2 separate regions of the Homo sapiens genome follow, and region 1 is linked to region 2. The links come from fine-mapping of genetic effects on gene expression. Tissue or cell type: thyroid. Region 2 holds a variant in brackets; the other region holds the start of a gene. All regions are shown on one strand. Distances are from middle to middle.

Region 1 (5,154 bases), 370 kb after region 2:
GAATCAAGGTCTCCATATCATTGTTTCTGAGAGCTTCCCACTATTTTAAACTGTTTATTGGCTTGTGTTCCTACCATGACATTTATGATGACATATATTGACACCTCAGATGCTGTACAGTGAATGTTGGCTGGGCTCTTTTCCATCTGAATTATTGCTTGGCTCTTGTTACTTTGCTAGTATAAATTTCAACTAGGCAACTACTATTTCATCCTACACTGACTTACCTAAGAAGCTCTCCCCAAGCATCCATATGATACCATTTAATGGTAAATTATAATTTGATTAATGTTTGTCATTATGAATGTGCTTTTAACAAGTAAAACCCTAGCTTACGCTAAATTAGAGATCTTCAAATCTTCGTTTCAAATTGAAGTAAATTAATTTTATTTCATTTGAATTCATTACTCAACTGATCTTCAAACTTAAGGTGTTAGCAAGAATAATCTTGCTTTTTAAAATGTGTATATGTTTCATGTAATCTTCTAAGACAAATTGTGTACTTTGACTTTAAATAAATTTCTGTTTAATCTCCTCACTAAATTTCTGGATAGCTGCAACTTCTTTAAAAATTCCAGATATCGATAGTGATGCAATTGTAGAGTAGACTGAGCTGTCTCTTCAGTAGTGGTGCAGAGATGGGCTGAAGCAGGAAAAGACACTCACTCCCTGAAACCTGTTTGCAACCCCATGACGAATACATACTTTCCCTTTCAACTACAACATTCTCTTAATGTTTGGCATGACCAAGTTATTCTTAAATTACCCCCTAGCTCTAAGCAACAGGAATAATCTTTTCCCATTTTATTCCTATGAACATGTGAAGTTTCAGGTCCCCTAAGGAATTCTCAATGTTTTTTTAATGCAGAGAGAAAGCGAACCCGCAGAAAAGGGGTTGGTAATTCCTCACTCCGTATTGTTTTCCTGCCTGTCACGGCCCCCGCCAGAAACTCCAAGCATTTTGCCAATGGGTAATGATGGGCAGTTAGTAGCTGCTTTTGTTGGGTGGTTGAAAAACAAAGCAAAACAATTCTCAAGGAAGGAAGAGAAAGTTTGAACCCAGACATCCTAAAAGTTGTACACTTTAAAAATCCTCCGACTCGCTAGTTAATAATTGAGTTTTCAGTCTTTCCCTGAAGGCTCACTGGAGCCCCATTTGCCTTTAATTGTTGGAACCGCCCTCACTTGGCTTGTTTCTGAGGTGTCCCACATATCACAAAGCTAAAGTTAACAAATTCAACTCTATATCCACAAATGTCATGACAGTGAGCATATTGCTTTGCCTAAAGAATAAAGACTGAGACTAAACTCTTTGCTTGTTCTTTGCTAGAAATCTGTTTGAGAAACTCCTAGTAGAATGAAAATCCAGGGGTTAAAAATAATGCACTTCATCATGGAAGTGCGCGTTGCCCTCATTACAGAGCTGCGAGAGAAATATTCCAGCTACTCACTGTTGCCTCTTAGTTGTTATGCTTTTCTTTCCTAATTGCATCGGACATGACCTATTTGCTTCCTAAGAAATCATACTTTTTACCTTAGGATACCAGCATAACCAAGCCATCCAAAAGCACCGGGGTCCCTACAGAAGCCCACCAGCTCCTTAATGTGGCCCCAGATGTGAAGATGGGGAAAGGGTAACTCCGTCCCACTTACCAGTCTTCCACAGATAGAGGGTGGGCGCCTCCGCCTCGCCCTGCGCCGCAGCCCTGCCGGCGCCCGGGCGTAGCAGCAGCAGCAGGAGCAGCGGCAGCGGCAGCGGCAGCGGCAGCAGCTGCAGGACGCCCCGGCGCGGCCCCGCAGCGCCCCGGCTCCCGGACGCCCAGCGCCTGGCTTGCAGCCCCATGCCGCCTGCAGCCACTCCAGGGTCCAGAGCCGTAGCACGCTCGGCAGGGAATTTTTCTCCGCTCTTGGAACGTCTTTTCAAAGAGTACAGAAAGCAAAGCTCTTTCCTGCTATTGTTCGCTTCAGATGAGAAGGAGGGAGAGCGCGTCTAACACCAGGGAACAATAGCGTCCGCGGTGGTGGCCGTGGCCGCTGCCGCCGCCGCCGCCGCCTCTGGCGGGGATGCTGCTGCCGCTGCCATTCCTCGCAGAATGGCAGGTCCCGGCGGCTCCGGAGGCAACTGTCCTCAGGGGGCCCCAGCTGACTGAGCAGGTCTGCTAGGTCTGGGAGGCAGCGCAGCCCCCGCCAGCTGGAGGGGGAGGAGGGGGGCGTGAGCCCAAAGGAGCAGAGGGGGCTGGAGGCAGAGGGAGGCGAGAGCGCGAGGGCGAGAAAGGGGGCGAGCAAAGGGGAGAGGGGCCAGCCAGGCGACACCCACCTCCGACATACCCGCCTAAAGAACTCCGGTGCACATGGTGCGATGAAATATGTTTGGAAGGATGCACCAATAAAAAGAATCATCACCCGGCAGATTTCAGAATGACAAATAACAGGCATTGATATTCACTGTCATCCAAGGAGTCAAATGCTAGATCTAGTGGCATGCTATTCTTAGTACGTATTTACACAAAGCATCAGTGTTTATTATCTATTTTTAAGCCATGGCTTCTGAATTACTTTGTGTGGGGAGCAGTATTTGAGATCAGGTGTGAAAACACGAGAGCAGAAATGTTGACTTGTCAAAATGCACTTAAACCCTTCTTTAAATGTTGTTTTTAACTTAATCTATTATCAATAAAAATATGAGCAATATTGATGCTCTGTGACAAATTAAATTGTCTTTTAATAGCCTTTAAAACTGAATTAGTGTTAATGAGTATTTGCAATGCTACCTAATTACATAAATACAATTGTACAAAAAAAAAACCCTTAAAATTAAAATTATATTTCAGGTATAGAGTTCTGTCCCTTCATCTACTTCTTTCCCTCAAAAATATGCTACTTCTAAGTATTCAGATAGTTGTGAGTCAAACTGAGTCAGTAATGCTGTCTGGATATCTTGGAATTAGTAAATTCTTCATTTAAAATTTCCCTGACACCGATTTTTCTTAACTCTTACTGTAGCAAAATGCCTGTCGCAATCTAAATAAGGAACCACATGTGTTTGCATCTTTTGTCCTTTGTGTTTTCACTTTCTTCTACCAGTAGTAATAGAAGAATGTGTGTGAAGTCGGATAATGCTTTCCCCTTTCTCCTTCTCCCTTTAGCTAATAATAATATATTTTATTATTAATTCATTTCACAGTAAAGCTAAAATAGTAGGCATTTAACCATTAAAAATTCAGCAAACGGAAAGCCAAAGAAAACTACTATCCCATCAGCAATTTTCAGCCAAATAAAATAAAATTTTAAAAGCAGGAAAACTACTTTTTATGAATTTACTCCAACATAGCTACCCTAGAGTTTAAGATGAGGAAGCTACTCTTTCTGAAAGAGGAAACCTTCCATAAGGCTCCCTTGGGACCCTTGTCATTTTGCAAAGCCTTCCAGACACAGCCCCTCTGCATGCATTAGATTAAAAGCGGGTTTGATCAAATAATTCCCAGGTCCTGCCTGTTTAAGTATTCTGACATCAGAGGAAATTAGCTACGTTGAAGGTTGCAAATTTGGTCTTTGTTTACTTTCCGCTCTGTTAGGCCTCTAAGAAGGAATTAAAAGCTCAGAGAGCCCGAGCGCTGTGAGTCTGTGATTAGGAGAGATAAGCTAGTGTGGCTTACTATTTCTTCACTCGTGAAAAACAGGCAACAATCAAAAGATTATAGGTTGATAAGGAATAAAAAGGAAGCCTGATCTTAACTAATGTATGGTTCCCTGAAGGATCACTTCTTTTGACAGTTACACCACAGAAGGAAATGGGACCTGCTATTGCTTCCTGGGTTCTGTCGTTTCAGGAAAATTTCCATGTCCACTCCACAAGGAATCATTTTCCCATCCTTTCTGCTTGTATTTCTCAGCTACTGTTAGTGCCCTAAACCTTGAAATCCTCTAACTCTGGCACAGGAAGTATTTCAAACTGGACATACTCTGCTAACAGCAGCCATTCTACGCATTCGTGGGAAGCGCCAATCAATTCACCAAGTGGGAATTCATTATATAACAGAGGACAGAGAGTCTGAGGAATTAAGTTAATGTGCAAGGTCATTTACCTAGCCCTTCAAAAAGCCATCCGACACTATACTTAATAGCTTATTGTCAAAAGAAATTTTAAGATTCTGACCTTTATATTTACCCATGGTGGTATAATAATAACTCAACTTGTCAAGAGTGTAAACATCATAGCTACAAATTCAAGCATTATACGGGGTCAATTTCTAGGTTCCAATTTGCTGCCATTTACAATACACAATTATGGTGATATGTTCTGCAGTACTGTTTCAAAATAGCCAACATTTGGTTTCCTTCTTTCAATTTCAACGTACACAAGGCCTAGGAGTCACACACACACATGCACATACACAAACACACACAATCATCAGCAAAGATATCTCTGAACAAGGTTAGAGAATCCAAGTCATATAAACATTTGTCTCCACACCTGCCACACATTTGTTCATAACAATGTCATTATTGCACTTGAGGACAAAAATGTATGGGTCTCTGAGGAGACAAAAGTGATGTATATATCCTGATATGTGTTCCTTTGTGAAAGGTATAGTGTCTAGGTAGATAAATCCTATCAATAAAACTGATAGATGGCAAGAGATAGCAAGACATAGCAATATTTGTTTCCTAGAATATGACATAAATAATAATACACAAATGTTTAATGACATGATGTCAAAATTTAGTCATGAGAAGTCTCAAGGATGCAGATTAAATTGACCATCTGTACAGCCTGCCATGAAGTAAATCGTTCGTCATTTTTCATGGAGAACTGTTCAAATATTAATGAGCCAGTGCGATAAAAGTTCTCCAAACCAATGAATGACAAATGCAAAGCATATTTTTTTAATATTTAGAAATGAAAAAATTCTAAACTTATCACCTCTCATGTGATAGGTGTCTTTATTCTGCCTCTATTAATTTTGCTATCATTTCTAAACTCCAGAGGTAAGGATGTGAACATACCTATACACATCTGTTTTCTCTTTTATTAGAACATAAACATATAAATATATATTACAACTCATGAGACTCATGACAATGACTTTTAGTCATTAGTATCAATATTTTAAAACAATTATGAAATATTCAGTTCCTTGATGGAAAGGGAAA
Region 2 (5,154 bases):
CTCTTCCTTCTACCCCCTTCCTATTCACTACCTGGATTTGCCCTTCTTTTACAATTTCTATTTTTTTCTTTTGTTTTATGTGTATGAACTGTCCATAATCTTTTTTTTTTAAAGTATACAAACTAATTAGACTCACATTTGTTTAACATTGGGGGAAGCAGGGAGGTTTCTGTTTTGTTTTTTAATGGGGAGGTAAGACGTAAAGGGCTCAAATGGGTTTTTGTTTCCCAGTTGGTCAAAATTCTTAGAGGCAATTACTCTCCAATCTGCAGATAGAGGACAGACACAGGATTAAGACCAGGGGATTTGGGGGCTGGTGGAGACAATGAGTTCAGCATTAGTGGCACCTCATAGACTAAAGCTCCTACTTATTAACTACCTAGATGGCACCTGGTGCATAGCCAGGGCTGTTCTACTTGAGGAAGCAGCTACCAAACATTAATGTTTCAATTCTATTTTGTTTGTTGATTTGAAAGAAAAAATGTCACTTAGAATACATTTCTGAAACATTCTCCTAATGCCTTCTCATCACAAACTCCACAAATTAGTACTAGATATATAAGACTATGATGACTCTCTTCACGTCCTTAATGGATTCCAGAGTGGCAATCCATTTATTCTTATGAAAAGTTCAAATTCCTTAACCTGGTACAGCCTACAGGATAGAGATTGTGACCTGATTCAAGTGGAACTCTTCAAAGATATGACACCCAGAGAAGACGTTTAATGGGGTTACACAGGAAGTGTCAATGACATCTATGTTTTTACCCATTGGCAGGTCTGTTTCTTCTCATATTGCAGTTAAGAAATTGCTTGTGTACTCAAAGTTACAGCGCTGTAGAGCTTTGCCAGGTTATACAGTCCTCAGATCAGAGAGCAGAAAAAAAGGAAGCTATACAGCACACATTAAAAACAAAAAATGAAAGTTTCATCATTAATAACTTGAGCTGGCAAACTGGGAATTTTATACCTTTCATCATCCCCTGCTTGTATTTATGCTCATTTTATTATATGCGGTTGATATATTTGTAGTGTTTCTATTCATCTGTGTGTTTTATACCTAAGACAAGAGTCACATATAGTAAGTGCTTAATAAATATTTGCTGAACGCACAAACACATTTATTTCACATCTTCTCAACTGGATTATTAGTTAGCACCTTCTATTTCTTTCCACTTATTCCTTTATAGTGGTAAGCGCACAGGTACCAATGCTGTGCATTAAGGATTAATAAAAATAAGCTATCACTTTGTTTTCATTGGAAATAACAAGTACGCGAAAAATAAGGGCACCTGCCTGTGACGTTTGTGCTTAAAAATGCCTATCCAGGATAGGAATGGAAAAAACAGATCGTACATCTAGCAAATAATCATGTGATGATGGGGTACACAGATTCAGAAGATATGTAATCTCTCACACAGTTATAGCATTTTTTCAGATATCTTAAGACATTCAAAATAAATTTCACCGAGAAATTACTTGATGAAAAGGATTTAAAAGGCAGGCAAAACTGATTCATTAAACTGGATATGGGATGGATTGCAGGTTGAAGCAGTACAGTAATAGGAAATTGAAAGGGAAATGTCTCATCCAAGAAGCAAAATGTAAAGGTAGTATTCAGATCTTTGGTGGTAATTCTAGTGCTCTAGTGATTTAGGACATGAGGAAGAAGCCTCTGCAATATTCCTTCTATTTCTCAACACAATAAATGCAGTGAGAAAAAAAAGGAGCAAACAGAATTTGAGCAACCAAATATATTATTTGATCAAAAGTATTGATTTTTTAAAATTAGAGGTACAAATAATTTATGTGCATAAGGTATTTCTATTTTTTAAAATGCCCTCTGTCAAAATTTACAAAAATTTGAAAAACACGTTAGCAAGTGCACTGGTCTCAGGATTAAACTACACTCCACTTAATACTGATCTTTATCAGCATTGATTTTTCAAGGGGTATTTTAGAAGAAGGCTGAATAACATTTCAAACAACTCTTTTAGTTCTTCCTGGAATCCTACTATTCTGTTTTATTTTGTGCAATAGTATTGTGTATTTGACTTCCTTAAAGTGATTTTAAAAAGAAGGATAGTCCTGCACTTTAATAAGCCCAACATCTTTGTAAAATTTAGACTTTACTCGCAGAATTAAGTAAAAAGAACCACCCCAACTTTGAATTAATTTTCTGTTGCTATTACCTCTCTTTGAACATTCAACTTTGCTTAGCATTTTTAAATGGTGTGTGTAAATTGGTGTAATTTCAAAATGATACTTGGGTTATTTCCATTTCTTATGAAATAATGAAAAAAACTAACCTCATGCCATTTACTTTATTTTCTTCACAACAAAAGGCTAGCTTTCTGTAACACCATTGTCTCCTTATTCTCAGTTACAGCAGTCTACAGGCAAAACAGAAAAAACTGCTTCTAGAGCACAAAGCATCTTGGCACTGTTATCCAACAATGACCCTTCTATCACTCTCCAGTCTTTAAAAAATTTTTATTTCCTCAAATACCCAACTGAGGTGATTTTTTAAAAATCGGAGTGCCTAGGTTTAGGGTTTCTGAAAACCTTTTGTTCTAGGAGAAACAACATGAGCTGCCAAATAAAACAGTCAGCACTCATTCCTTGCTCCGGATGACATGACCTGTGTTCAGGGAAACACTGCTCTGCC[G/T]CTTAGAGAGCCTCTTGCTTCTAAGAGAGCCGATTCCCGAGTTGGCATTTTTGCACTCTCTTGCCACCACCATCTCAGGAACACCAGGAGAGAATAGTATCCTAGTGGTACCATGCATTTTTACTTACAGAGGTTTCCTACCTTCCCCCAAGAGACCAACCCAACTAAACCCATTATGCCTCACATGCCTGCCACTCACCACAAGAAATGAGCCCTCCCCAGCTCCAGGTCATTCATCATCACCCGGACCCACAGCACTATCTACCCGCATAACACGATTCAGTTTTTCATTCCTTTACATCCTCTAGCCCTTCTACCGCTGCGCCCACTGGAACACATGATCTCTCATCTTCAGTCTCTTCTGGGAAAGTTTCCTTCACATCTTGGGCTCCAGTGGGCTGGTCGTTCCAAAATCACATCTTTCTCACAGTCATTTAAGGCTTTCCTGATGTCTCCAATCCTCACTTGCAATTCTTTCATGTGGTTCATCTTTCAAGAAGATCTCTTGTACCTCCTTTTCAGTATGATTTTTCTTAATATATTTGCTCTGACATGATTATTCCATTCCCTTCCTTAGAGCTCTTTGTGTTTTACCATTAAATTTTGTTATTGAACCATGTAAGTCTTACATTATCTGGGCTGTGCAGAAGAGTTCTATATGTTAAATGCAATTAAAAGCTTCCTTGATGTCTGGGACTGTGATTTCTCTATATGACCATTAGTGTGCTAGTTATATACAAAAATCAATAAATAAGTAATTAAATAAGTATTTATACATATATACACAAATAAGTACTGACTCAATTAAGACCTATGTAGCATTCACAATCTATTCATTCTCATCTATCTGCTAAGAAGTTTTTAAAAGTGCTTTATGTGAGTTATCACAGTGTTTTAGATTTTTTATTTTATAAATGATCAAACAGCAAAGAGCAAATCAGTTTCTTCATACTGTAAAAATCACAAATTTAAAAATCATGTTATTTTCTTTTCAAGTATGGTTTTTTACTCCTAAAAAACCTCTATTTTTTCTTTCCTTTCCAGATGTATATAATACGTAACAAAATCACAAATGTGTTTTCAAGAACTTAAGAAAAAATTTATAGGCTATTAAAATGGTTCCTAATTCCTGGATACATTCCAATATCCAAAATTATTTTCAAATAAAGGTCTAAAGAAATGAGAAAAATTCTGATTCTTCACTTTTATTAGTGACTACTCTGGAATCAATTTAATAAAATATTTTCTGTTCTTTTTTAAACTTTACTTCCTTGAAATACTTTAGATCAAATCAACTTTTTTAAAAGAGTAATTTACACAATACAAGAAAATATCCAAAATAAGGGAAAGGCAAAGTCTTTCCACTTTCAAAATTTTCACTTAAAATTTGTTTTAGACTATTAACAATTTGCTTATAAATGTAACTGCACATGCTTGGAATTATTAGTAAATGAACATATTCCATATAAACAGAAAAGATCAAGTATAAAGGCATCAAGAACAAAATTTGTAAGTGTATTAATTCTATGTAATTAATGCTTTTTAATTGAATTAATTAATAACCAACAATTACCACCTATAAGTGCCATCATAGGTAAAATATTAATCTATAAGAAAGTACAATTCTACTGCCAACTGTGACCGGTGTTATTCAGCTTAAAAAAAAAAAAAGGAATAAGAGAGGAAAATCTGGATTAAAATGTCAGGCAATGACACTGCATAGCAAGTTCATGCCATTAACATGTTTATAAAAGTTAATGCTTATAACTCCTTTTAATTTGCCAAAAGCTATTTAAATGTCTTAAAAGACTCCTAAATAAAAATATTTTGCAGTGGCTCGTGCCTGTAATCTCAGCACTTTGGGAGGCTGAGATGGGTGGATCACTTGAGGCCAGGAGTTCTAGACCAGCCTGGCCAAAATGGCACAAACCCATCTCTACTAAAAATACAAAAATTAGCCAGGTGTGGTGGCATGTGCCTATAGTCTCAGTGACTTGGGAGGCTGAGGCACAAGAATTGCTTGAACCCAGGAGGCTGAGGTTGCAATGGGCCGAAATTGAGCCACTGTACTCCAGCCTGGATGACAGAGTGAGAGACTCTATCTTAAAAATAAAATAAAATAAAGAATAATAATAATTTTCTATCACTTCTAAGTGTGGTTTAATTTTATTGGATATTTCAAGGGTATTAAATAGAAAACCATCAAAAGGAAAATCATGTTTCAACTATATAAAAATATAGTAACACAGTAAAAGTATCCATTATTAAATGTATAATACCTAAAGGATTTGATTAAATTTTGACAACTTAAAATAGTTTGTTAAGCTAGAAGTTGACTCTTAATTGAATCTCTCTAGTAAGTGTTAAGAAACATGAAAAAAATAAAAGCATACAGGAAATTTAGAAAAAATTATCTGTATTTGTTGAGTAAGATAAGAAATAGGAGACAGCGTCATTTGTAACACTGCAGGAAAATTTGCTCAGTT

The links. PIP is the estimated chance that this variant, and not a neighbour inherited with it, causes the effect.
Region 1: it holds the start of THSD7A, and the variant in region 2 is fine-mapped to the expression of THSD7A in thyroid (GTEx, PIP above 0.99).

The regions. Positions count from the first base shown.
Region 1 is chr7:11,830,104-11,835,257 of GRCh38, forward strand. THSD7A (thrombospondin type 1 domain containing 7A) reads right to left here and starts at 2,095. Exons shown (of 28, transcript NM_015204.3): 1 at 1,654-2,095. The coding sequence starts at 1,843. RefSeq lists a silencer at 1-134 and enhancers at 1,692-2,232, 2,233-2,772.
Region 2 is chr7:11,464,063-11,469,216 of GRCh38, forward strand. All of the region lies in intron 9 of THSD7A (thrombospondin type 1 domain containing 7A), which reads right to left. Among named protein-coding and RNA genes, the nearest start is that of THSD7A, 370 kb to the right of the region's middle. The variant G/T (reference allele first, on the strand shown) is at 2,669.